Linked DNA regions of Homo sapiens: region 2 is linked to region 1. Evidence: fine-mapped expression QTL. Tissue or cell type: whole blood. Region 1 holds a variant in brackets; the other region holds the start of a gene. All regions are shown on one strand. Distances are between the middles of the regions.

Region 1 (5,600 bases):
CTGATTGAGTAAAAATTTAGATCTATGATTCAATTTTTTTTTTTAAGAGACAGAGTCTCATTCTGTCACCCAGGCTGGAATGCAGTGGTGCAATCATAGCTCACTGTAGCCTTGAATTCCTGGGCTCAAGTGATTCTCCCACCTCAGTTTCCTGAGTGGCTAAGACTACAAAACACACACACCCAGCTAATTTTTTCACTTTTAGTAGAGATGGGTCTCACTACGTTGCCCAAGCTGGTCTCAAACTCCTAGCCTCAAGTGATTCTCCCACCTCGTCCTCCCAAAGTGCTGGGATTACAGGCATGAGCCATTGCACTCAGCCTTTGATTAATTCTTTTTAAGATTTGAATCATCATAAGTTAGAAACTGTGCTTCACAGTATTTTGCATCATGACTCTGTATACATATACCTACTTATATATGAATAAACAAATGTTTCACATTATAATACTTGTCTTTACTAAATATAATACATTCTGATATTTTCTTTCTTTGCTACTTCATTTTTTAAAGATGCTGGTCACAACCAACTAAATTGTTTTCCTGACCTGCAGTGTGAAAAGTGCTTATTTAGGTAACCAATCATTCTTAAGCTTTCTTTAGGCACAGCATGCTTCCAAATACTAAAATTTGGGGCAAAGTATTAGAAAGAATTAAAAGACCCTAAAATATAAATATGTATCAATGGTCATTACAACACAATCATCATTAGAAGTTTGTGTCCTGCAGCATCTATAAAAGCTTCCTTTACTCACTACACTATTTCCTAGCTAGCTGTTCAGCAGCAGATGGCTGTTTAAGGGATTTATCATCGCCCTGACCATTCTCTTATAAGGCAAAGTTGTCGAATGTTCTAGAAGCACCTGAAAGCTCTTCAACATAGGTTGATGTGATCCTCCAACTTGAACGTGGGGCCCCGCTCTACCCTTGTCACAAAACCTAAGTGCCCACTGCCACAAAACTTAGGATGAACATACAACAGCCTAGTGTACTTCCCATTTGCAACAATAAACTACACACATGGTCATCAGGTGCCAGCTCCCCACAGAGGGGCTCATGGTAGTCTGGAGTGCTCAGCACACCACTAAGAACTTCAGCATCAACACGCTGCTTATGAGCTCATAAGACATGACTGCAGTATAATGGGAAGTTTCAGACCACGTTCTTTTAAAGCCACTTTCCAGAAAGACTGTCAACATTCCAACGATGTTGAGGGTATATTACTTCTCCTTTTTTTCTAGTCACTCAGCAAGAAAAAGTTAGGTAACTTACATTACTATAGAAATTGCCATACCAGTATTTGCAAAAACAGTGTTCATACTTCAACACAGGCCTTGGTAATTCAACAGCTCATCCTGTTTCCAAAATGGCCTGTTTTTGTTTGTTTGTTTGTTTTAGCTATCTTTGTAAAAGAATTGAAATGCAAGTATACTCTCACCCACATGCCCATTTCACTCGCAGCAGTCCCACTGCCCAGACCCAGCCACGACCCGGTCAGAAGTCAGGGTCTGAGTGCTCATTGCCAAGAGAAAAGCCAGGAGGCAGCACAGCCCACCACCCAGCCCACAAGGCACAGTCCCCATGGTTCGTGAAGAGGAGCTCACGTGAGAAACCTGGGATGCATTGCAGTGGCTTGGCTTCCTGAGTGAGCTGTGTTTATTTGCTGTTATCCATGCCACAGTCCCCCTGCACAAGGTGCAGTGGAGTAAGGGTGTTCTAGGTAACGGAGCGGCTGGAAAACACAAGGCTAGTTGTTTGTTTTCGGATGGGAATTCCTGCCTTTGCTACAGTATGACTTCAGGCAAGCCACTTAACTGTCCTAAAACCTACTTTCCGTATCTGTCACCTAGCTGATGGCCTCAGATCTTTCAAAAATAGAATAAACATGCTTTTAAAAGGATATAGCACTATTGAAACAAAGGTACCACCATTGTTAGCCAATCCACATGCAGCTATCAAGTACCTTCTTTGTATGAGGCAATATCCTTTTCCTAAGGTGGTTCAGTTGCAAAGGGGAAATAAGATAAAACTCACAAAATAATAATACAGGATAATTACAGGACAAGTTACACAATTCATGACTGATTGCTATATAAGAAGTATAGATTTCCTATGACTAGCCTACGACTGTGGGCTTGAGAAGCTACGTGGGAAGGGCCTGCACCTGGCTAGGCAGATTGGGATGGGCAGGCAGGAAATGAAACAGAACATGTGCAAAGGCACAGAGGCGGGAGAAGCACAATCAGAAGCCCAGTTAGGCTATGGAAAAGTTGGGAATGGAGCGCAGTCAGCCCTTCGCATCCACGGGCCACGTATCCACAGGTTCAACCAACCACAGACAGAATATTTGAAACAACAACAATAAAAAGAATACAAATAAAAATCACAGCACGACAACCATTTACATAGCGTTCACACTGTAGGTATTATAAGTAGTCTAGAGATGGTTTAACGTGTGCAGGAAGATGTGTGTAGGTGAAATGCCAATTCTATGTCATTTTATATCAGGCACTTGGGCATCTGTGTTGGTATCTGAGGCAGGCCCTGAAACCAATCCCCCCAGATACCAAGGGGTGACTGTAACAGGCAGCAGGGCCCACTAAAATGAAGTGCCTTCCAGGTACACTGCCCCTGCTGAGAAGCCAGCCATGCCCACACCTCCTTCTGATCCATCTTTATGCCACACGGCCCCGGCCCCGCAGCCCCACCATCCTTGTTATTTATGGCTGATTGCCCCAGGCTTGGGTAACAAAGGAAACCACAGATAGCCTGTCACCCGGTAGCTGCTGCCTATGCGGGAAAGCCCTGGGCCATAGGACAGTGACTCACTGAGCCAATCATATCTTCTCCTGGAGTGGGTGACATAGGAAAGTGCCCTGGCAACAGACAGACACAGGGAGGGCAGCAAGTGGAAGCCTGGAGGTAGCTGAAGCCATGATCTAGAAGGAGCCTAGAGAGAGTAAGTGGGGAGAGAATTCTTTCCCTAACAGCAGACACAACACAGCTGGGTCTCCAGAATGGCAGAGCCCAGGGGGCGGAGCTCATGACGCCCACGGCTGAGGGGTCACTTGGGACTCTGGCTCCTGCCTGCCTCTCTGGGAGGCTTTGAGCAGTATCTTGTTTCCTGGCTTCTTTCTTCTCTGTACACTCTTCCCTTAAGCTCCTTTGCTAACGAGAGCAGG[G/T]GCTCTCAATCTTAGCTAATAGACTCACCTGTGGAACTTTGAACACAGATTCTCAGCCTCATCCCAGAGCTTCTGAATCAGAATTCCTAGGGCTGGGGCCAGGAAGGTGTTTTTAGTTTTTTTGGGTTTTAACTCCACAGCTGATTTCAATGCTCTACCACCATCGAGAACTGAATTAAGGCAACCTGAACATGCACTTCTGCTCCCTGCAACCTGAGTCAGTTTAATGCTCATGGAGCCGACTGTGAACCTCAATGATTAAAAAAAAATGCTCACTTTTTTTTCCTTATTGTGTTTTAAAACACATGTACAAAATTATATTTACCTGGAAAAACCAAATTTCACATCAACCTAGCAAACCCAATTATTTCAAACAACTCCTGAGTTCCAGTTTCTGTTTAGTAGCACGGTGTTACAACACTTAAAGAGTTTCCAGAGCACGTCAGCCACCTTCTGAGGACTTGCTATGCAGCAGGCACTGTGTTAGGCTCTTTGTACACATCTGCTCATTTATCACCCTGCAATCTGGACATTAATTATCCTCATCTTGGAGATGATAAAATATCATTTCGGAACGGCTGATAATCTGTGTTTTTAAAAGTTCCACGGGTGAGTCTGCTCTGCAGCCAGGATTGGGAGCCTCTGCTCTGGTTAGTGAAGGAGTGTAAAGGAAAGGTGTCTGTTAAGCTTTCTCAGGTTGCAGAGAAGTTGAGCTCAAAATTTAAAAACTCAGCACCTATGGCTTCCAAGTGACCTTGAGCCTTTCCACATGGCCTCCTGGATCTAGTATGGTGGCTGGGCAGTGATGGGTACATCTCCTCTATTTGGGAAAAAGGATTATTAAAAACACTCACTTACTGACCCAAATCATTGTTTTTAGAATTAACCCAGGAAGAAAAAAATTATCCTAAAATTATAAAAATTTTTTAAATGTAAAAAATGATCCTGGCCAGGCAAGGTGGTTCACACCAGTAATCCCAGCACTTTGGGAGGCTGAGGTGGGAGGATCGCTTGAGCCCAGGAGGTTGACACCAGCCTGGGTAACATAGCAAGACCTCATCGCTACAAAAAAAAAAATTTTTTTTTAATTATCTGGGCATGGTGGTGCGTGTCTGTAGTCCCAGCTACTTGAGAGACAGAGGCAGGAGGATCACTTGAGCCCAGGAGTTTAGAGCTGCAGTGAGCAGTGATCGCACCACTGTATTCCATCCTGGATGACAGAGCAAGACCCTGTCCCAAGAAAAGAAAGAAACAATCTTCTTTCCTTTGATTTGTATCAGTGATTTCCTACCTTTCAAGGATATAAACTCCATTGTAATGCCAAATAGTCTCACAGGCCCTCACCCACATGATAATTAACGTAGCTAATTAAAATGTATAGCTTCATTTAAAAGCATGACTTGAGTAGATTTTAGCCGTATTTTCTCAATTACAATAGTGTCTATTTGCTTTTGAACAACAGAAGTACATTTACGCTGAGGTCTTATATTTATGCACTCTAGAGAAAATGCAAAAAAAAAAAAAAAAAGCCATAGAAGAAATCATGAATGTATCTAATGAGTTGAAAGTCCTTCTGTCCCCACTGTAAATAGCATTCAGCCTTTTCAGTTCCAAATTATAGTAATCTTTAACATACTCTTGTTGCTTATAGAAATATAGTCACCTAAATGCATACTAATATTTATCCGAACAGGTCACAGAAAAAAACTATCTCACACTCTGATAAAACTCACAGACTCATCATAGTCAAGAGTCTTACCTAAAAATGATGAGAGCAAGAGTAAGAGTGTGTTGGTGTCTTCATTTCCAAAACATGACGAAGCATTAGTGATGTTTTCACTGAAGTTCCATAAAGTTTTACAAACCAAGCAGGCCAGCTGCCAATCAGTAGGACCCAAATCTCTTAAACAGTCCACTAACCTGAGTTAATAAAATTCAAATTGAGAAGTTATTAGGTCAGAATCTGTCTTTAATTTTAATATTGTTAGCATAATGATTATCCTTCTGTGATATGTAAGTATAATCCAGTGATCACTTAAAATAATTCCTTATCTATAAATTTAAGTGGTTATAAAGTAGCAATAATCTACTTCTACACCTTTTTTTTTTTGAGACAGAGTCTCACTCTGTTGCCCAGGCTGAAGTGCAGTCGCGCGATCTCGGCTCACCGCAACCTCCACTCACTGCAACCTCTGTATCCCGGATTCAAGCGATTCTCCTGCCTCAGCCTCCTGAATAGCTGGGATTACAGGCGTGTGCCACAACGCCTGGCTAATTTTTGTCTTTTTAGTAGAGACAGGGTTTCACCATGTTGGCCAGGCTGCTCTCGAACTCCTGGCCTCAAGTGATCTGCCCACCTCGGCCTCCCAAAATGCTGGGATTACAGGTGCGAGCCACCACACCTGGCCTACTTCTGCA
Region 2 (5,332 bases), 130 kb before region 1:
TATACTCCAGCCTGGGTGACATAGTCAGATTCTGTCTCAGGAAAAAAGAAAGAGGCCGGGCACGGTGGCTCACACCTGTAATCCAGCACTTTGCAAGGCTGAGGTGGGTGGATCACTTGAGGTTAGGAATTCAAGACCAGCCTGACCAACATGGTGAAACCCTGTCTCTACTAAAAACACAAAATTAGCCAGGTATGGTGGTGCATGCCTGTAATCCCAGCTACTTGGGAGGCCGAGGACGAAGAATCACTTAAACTTGGGAGGTGGAGGTTGCAGTGAGCCAAGATTGTGCTATTGCACTCCAGCCTGGGCAACAAGAGCAAAACTCCGTTGAGACAGAGGGAGAGAGAGAGAGAGAGAAAGAGAGAGAGAGAAAAGTAGTCATTTTTTAAAAGTCAGATCATGCCCTCATCTGCGCAAAACTCTCCAATGCTTTCCCAACCCAATTAAAAATGTTAGTCCTTTCAGTCACCTACATGTTCTCCTACCATTACTTCCTTTCTCTGTGACCTCATGTTATTCTCCTCTTTGTACTCATTGTGCTCCAGCCACACTAGCCTTCTTGCTATTTCTCAAATGCGCACTCAGGCTTCTGCCCAAGGCCTTTGCACTAATTCTCTTCATTAGAATGTTATTTGCCCAGGCATCTACATGGTTTATTCCCTCCCCTACTTCATATCTCAATTGTCCCCTTCTGGATTATGTCTTTTCTAACAACCTTATTTAAAAGTGAACCTTGCCCCTCACATCCTGGCACTCCCCATTCCCCTTCCCAGTTGTTTTATTCTCCACTGCATTTGTCTTCATTTCATTTACTAAGTGTTTTACATATTTATTTATTATCTCTCCTCAGTAGAATGCAAGCTCTATGACAGTAGGAATTTTTATATATTGTGGTCAATGCTGTATCTTCAATGTCCTGTTATATAAAAGGGACTCAACAGAGATTTGTTGAGTAAACGCGTGGGTGAAATGGAATATGAGAACCAATGACTGAAAAATGGACTGTATGGCTGATCTGGAGGGCAATATATGAAGTTAGTCTGAAAGAGTACCAGATGATGTCAGGCTTTATAAAGGAGTTTTGTCTTTAACAGTAGTAGGACACCACTGAATAGTTTTAACCAAGAGAAAATCTGATCAAATCTGCAGTTTCAAAAAATCATTCTGGCAGATATAATGGAGAACTAATGGAGGAGGGTCATTGTGAATAATTGCTACTGTAGTGGTCTTGAGAGATTATCGCAGTTTGAAGACAGGTGGAGAGAAAAATATATTTGAAGGATATTTTGAGAGATAAGGTTGGCAGAACTTCATAATAATTTGGCCATAGAAGTATGAAGGGCAAGAAGAAATAAAGAATAATGTTTAGCTTTCAAATTTTCACAAGTAGATGGATAGTAGTGTCCTTTGCTGAAATAAGGAACACTGAAAAAGAATTAGATTCATAAGAGATAACTATGCATTTGGTTTTAGGTATGTTGAGTTTGAGATGCTTTTGAGATATCCAAGAAGAAATATCCAAGAGATATTGTGAAAGCTGAGAGGTGAAGCTGAATGGAGCTATTCATTTGAGAGTCATAGGTGTTGGTGAAGCCATGGGTATACATGAGATCATATTTAACTACGGCATAAAAAGGCACCCAGCCTTAAGAAACTACCCGACCCTTTATGGGCTGGATAGAGAATGAAGATCCCAAAAAGGAGATGAAAACGGAATGGTTTTTGTTTTGCTTTTTCAATCACACTCATAAGTTATTCCCTTTTTAAAATTCAGATTCAAACTAGAAGTGTCAGAATGTAACAAGGCTTTTGAAATTAGACCAATTCATCAGAACTATGCATCTATTCAAAAATAGCTCACTTACAGAAACGATGTAAAGAATTCACAATACCTGTCTCTTTGTAGCTTCTAAGTGCATCAATACACAAAAAGCACCCTTCCCGTCCCACCCCACACCGCCAAGTATGCATGATTTGGCTTACTGACGTTTCCTGAAAGTACCCTATCTCTCACTCTGGGCCTTAGCATATGCTGTTCTTTTGGTCTTCATTTCCCCTGGGATGAAGATTTCCCTGACTTTCCAAGATTGGGCTAAGTCATCTCCTTCTAGACATCCCAGTGATATCATGTATTATTGTAACCGTATGTCTAACAACTAGTTCCTCTAACTAGTAAGACTGTCTTTTTCATTGTTGTATACTCAGTGCCTAGCAAGACGAAATTTTTAGAATTTAGTGCAATGCAATTCTGCAATGTAAAGAATTAAAATCTACACCGATTATCAGTCCACTGATGGCCGTTCAAACCTCGACTTTTCTCAAATAATAACTTTTTAAAAGCAAACTAATTTTAAGCAAATGACTGAATCTTTTGAAAAAGTCGACTAAGTTTTGGAGACTTTTACGGTTTTGCTTTCTTTTTCCTGCTGTATCCTTAAAGCCTGCAAGAATTCCTATCTAGGAATACTGGGGATTCTTTTACGAGATGGATTTGACAACTTGCTTTCAAAGCCCTGCCTAGGATTTCATTTGACTGAGCAAATAAAGCCCAGAACATCCCTAAGCAAAGGCAAACAAAGGTGCAAATGCGCGGAGATCCCAAATCCACCCCGCGTGTGTCCACAAAAAAGGGCGGAATCAGAGGCAGCAGCGCGAAGCTCCAGTTTCCACAGCATCCTTCCTTCTTGGCCTTACTTAGGCCGCTCCCTGCGACCCTTGGGATCAGGATCCCAAATCCTTGCCTCACCCACCACACCCCGCGCTTGGGCAGCTGGACTAGTCCTTCCCACGCAAGTCACTGGAAAAAGTCCTTGGACTAAGGGAGGCCACCCTAGATGGCTTTGTCTCCAAAATCCCAGAGGAAATGGAGGAAGGAAAAACCCTGTCAAGGAAAGGTGACAACCCAGCTTACAGTGCTTACCAAGCAGACGCTCTCAGTCAGCCCCTGCCACCGCTAACCGTTGGTTCGCGGGCACCCACAGGCAACGTCGCGGTGGCCCCTGGGGGTTGTAGTTTCTGTCGCAAACAAAACGCGCCGGCAGCATCGAAACTACATTCCCCACAAGTCAACGCGAAGACGTCCTACCGACTTAAATCTGGGGTTTGGAGTAATGAAGAGGCCGTCACTACTTTTAGGGTGATCTTAAATGTAGACTCAATTTCTTCCAGGAGTCCCTTCGCGCCCTCTTTCTTTGTCGTGCTTGTTTTATGTGTGACGAAGTCTCAGTGTACTTCTACGTCTTACTTTTTCCTTCCCCTTCTCCAGGACAGAGTCCAAACGTCCGGGAACGGAAACCGCCTCAGGGCGCAAGCTTAGCGCCTCCGGGGGCGCTTGGCCCAGTTCGCAGTCACGCATGCGTAGCAGCCGGCAGTGGCTGGCAGCCGCGCGCGGCGCACTTGGGGTCCGGAGGGTAGCCTGCCAGAGGGCGGGGCTTTTTCCTAAGGCTTTGCCTCGGCGGGTCGCGTCTGCCTGGGCGGGGAAGAAGGCGCTGGGGCCGGGGCGGCTCCCGGTTTGTGCCGGGCGGAGAAAGGGGAGGGGCTGGGGGTGAGGACCCCGTCTCCACTCCCTGCTCCCGCCCTCTGGGCTGATCCCCACCGATGGGGCTGGGCGAAGGGCGGGCTTTGCGCCTCGGGCCCCGCCGCCCCGCCAGCTCCGCGGCCCAGCCTGGCGCTCGAGGATTGCCAGGGCCGCCCTGTGCCCTCTGGCTCGGCGGTGGTGGGCGAGGGCTCAGGGATCGGAGAAGTAGCGTCTTCCCGGGGGTGCCGAATTGGCGGGGCTGGGGGACGCTTTTTTTCACCGCCGCCCGCCGAGACTACGGCTGCCCGAGACTGCCGCCCTCCGACAGCGCCCAAGCCTCCGGCCGCTGCGGCCAGTGGGCCAGGGTTCGGCGAGCCTTCCCTGCCGGCGCCGGCCGGCTGCTGAGGCGCTGGGAGGAGCTGCGGAGGGCGGGGACTGGTGTCGGAGAAGGGGCGGGGTGGGAACGCCGGAGAGAACCCGGTGGCTGCACAGACAAAAAAGCCCCGAATGGCTGGAGGGCGTTCAGCTGTTAACAGCCTTTTGGGGCAGAGCACGGATTTGACAGCTCCACAACGTGAGGATATCCACTGACCCCGCGAGACGGAGGAGAACGCTTCCCCGAAATTCTCTGCCCACCAAAGCCAGCGCTGCAAGGTTGCAACTTTCAAACTTTGTTTTTCCAGAAAGAAGACTGCCCTTTCGTGTACAAGGAGAGGGTGAGAGGGTGACCTAGCTTGTAGATCGGCTGAAGGCACCAGTGGTTCCAAATGTCACCCAGATGTGTGTTTTCATGACGATTTGATTTCTCTGATTTTATTTTTACATTTTTCATTTTAAAAATACAAAGCAATTTTTTTGGGGCATGCTGAAAGGTAACTGAAGACCGCAAAGGAAAAACTATTGTCATGGCTGAAGGAGAGAATGAAGTGAGATGGGATGGACTCTGCAGCAGAGATTCAACTACTAGGGAGACAGCATTGGAAAACATTAGGCAAACCATTTTGAGGAAAACCGAGTATCTTCGTTCGGTGAAAGAAACACCTCATCGTCCATCAGACGGGCTTTCAAATACCGAGTCTTCGGATGGGTTGAATAAGCTACTTGCTCATCTGCTTATGCTTTCTAAGAGGTGTCCCTTCAAAGATGTGAGAGAGAAAAGTGAGTTTATTCTGAAGAGCATCCAGGTAAGGAAGAGCATTTTAAATACAACTATGTCTCTACTACAGTTAAATTTTACTTGCCGTTATTCACGTTGTGTTTGTTTCTATTAGGTTGTTATGTAAACTTTTATTATGAGTTTACATCTTTAGAGTGTTCTGTAAGTAAACAAGTAGTGTTTTTCTAGAGTTTTAGGCAGAAACTGCTTTGCTCCTGGAAGAATATATGAAAACTACAGTTAATTCCAAGTAAATACTTGTTTTTCCTTATATTTCTTTTTACATGTTGTTGGAAAATGTAGCCAGTGTTTTTTTTTCACATTGTCACAGTGTTCTGAGTGTAAAGGCTCACATTTAAAAGCCTCTAAAATGATAAAGGATATTAAATGTTTCCTAGTCAGCCTGTTCAAGATAATTGGTGGAACAATTTTCTCTTATTTTTAAAAACAAAACAAACCAGGATGTGTTCTCTAAATGCAACCTCTCTTTTTTCAAGAAGAGAATTATATAAAATAATAAAAACCTATCTTAAAAGAAGCTAATATCTTCATGTTGAAAAGGTGGACCCAGGTGGGGTATTTGATAGAAACACTTTTATGGCAAATTGCTCAACTAGCTTTCTCTGTGTTTGCCTGAATTGTTTCTTTTTCACATG

What was found. PIP is the estimated chance that this variant, and not a neighbour inherited with it, causes the effect.
Region 2: it holds the start of CEP57L1, and the variant in region 1 is fine-mapped to the expression of CEP57L1 in whole blood (INTERVAL, PIP above 0.99).

The regions. Positions count from the first base shown.
Region 1 is chr6:108,964,482-108,970,081 of GRCh38, reverse strand. It overlaps ARMC2 (armadillo repeat containing 2), which reads right to left. Exons shown (of 18, transcript NM_032131.6): 17 at 4,942-5,102. Among named protein-coding and RNA genes, the nearest start is that of ARMC2-AS1, 43 kb to the right of the region's middle. The variant G/T (reference allele first, on the strand shown) is at 3,183.
Region 2 is chr6:109,093,167-109,098,498 of GRCh38, reverse strand. It overlaps CEP57L1 (centrosomal protein 57 like 1), which reads right to left and starts at 2,992. Exons shown (of 11, transcript NM_001271852.3): 1 at 2,924-2,992. It overlaps SESN1 (sestrin 1), which reads left to right and starts at 3,653. Exons shown (of 10, transcript NM_014454.3): 1 at 3,653-4,704. The coding sequence starts at 4,426. RefSeq lists enhancers at 3,006-3,265, 4,136-4,285 and a silencer at 3,326-4,025.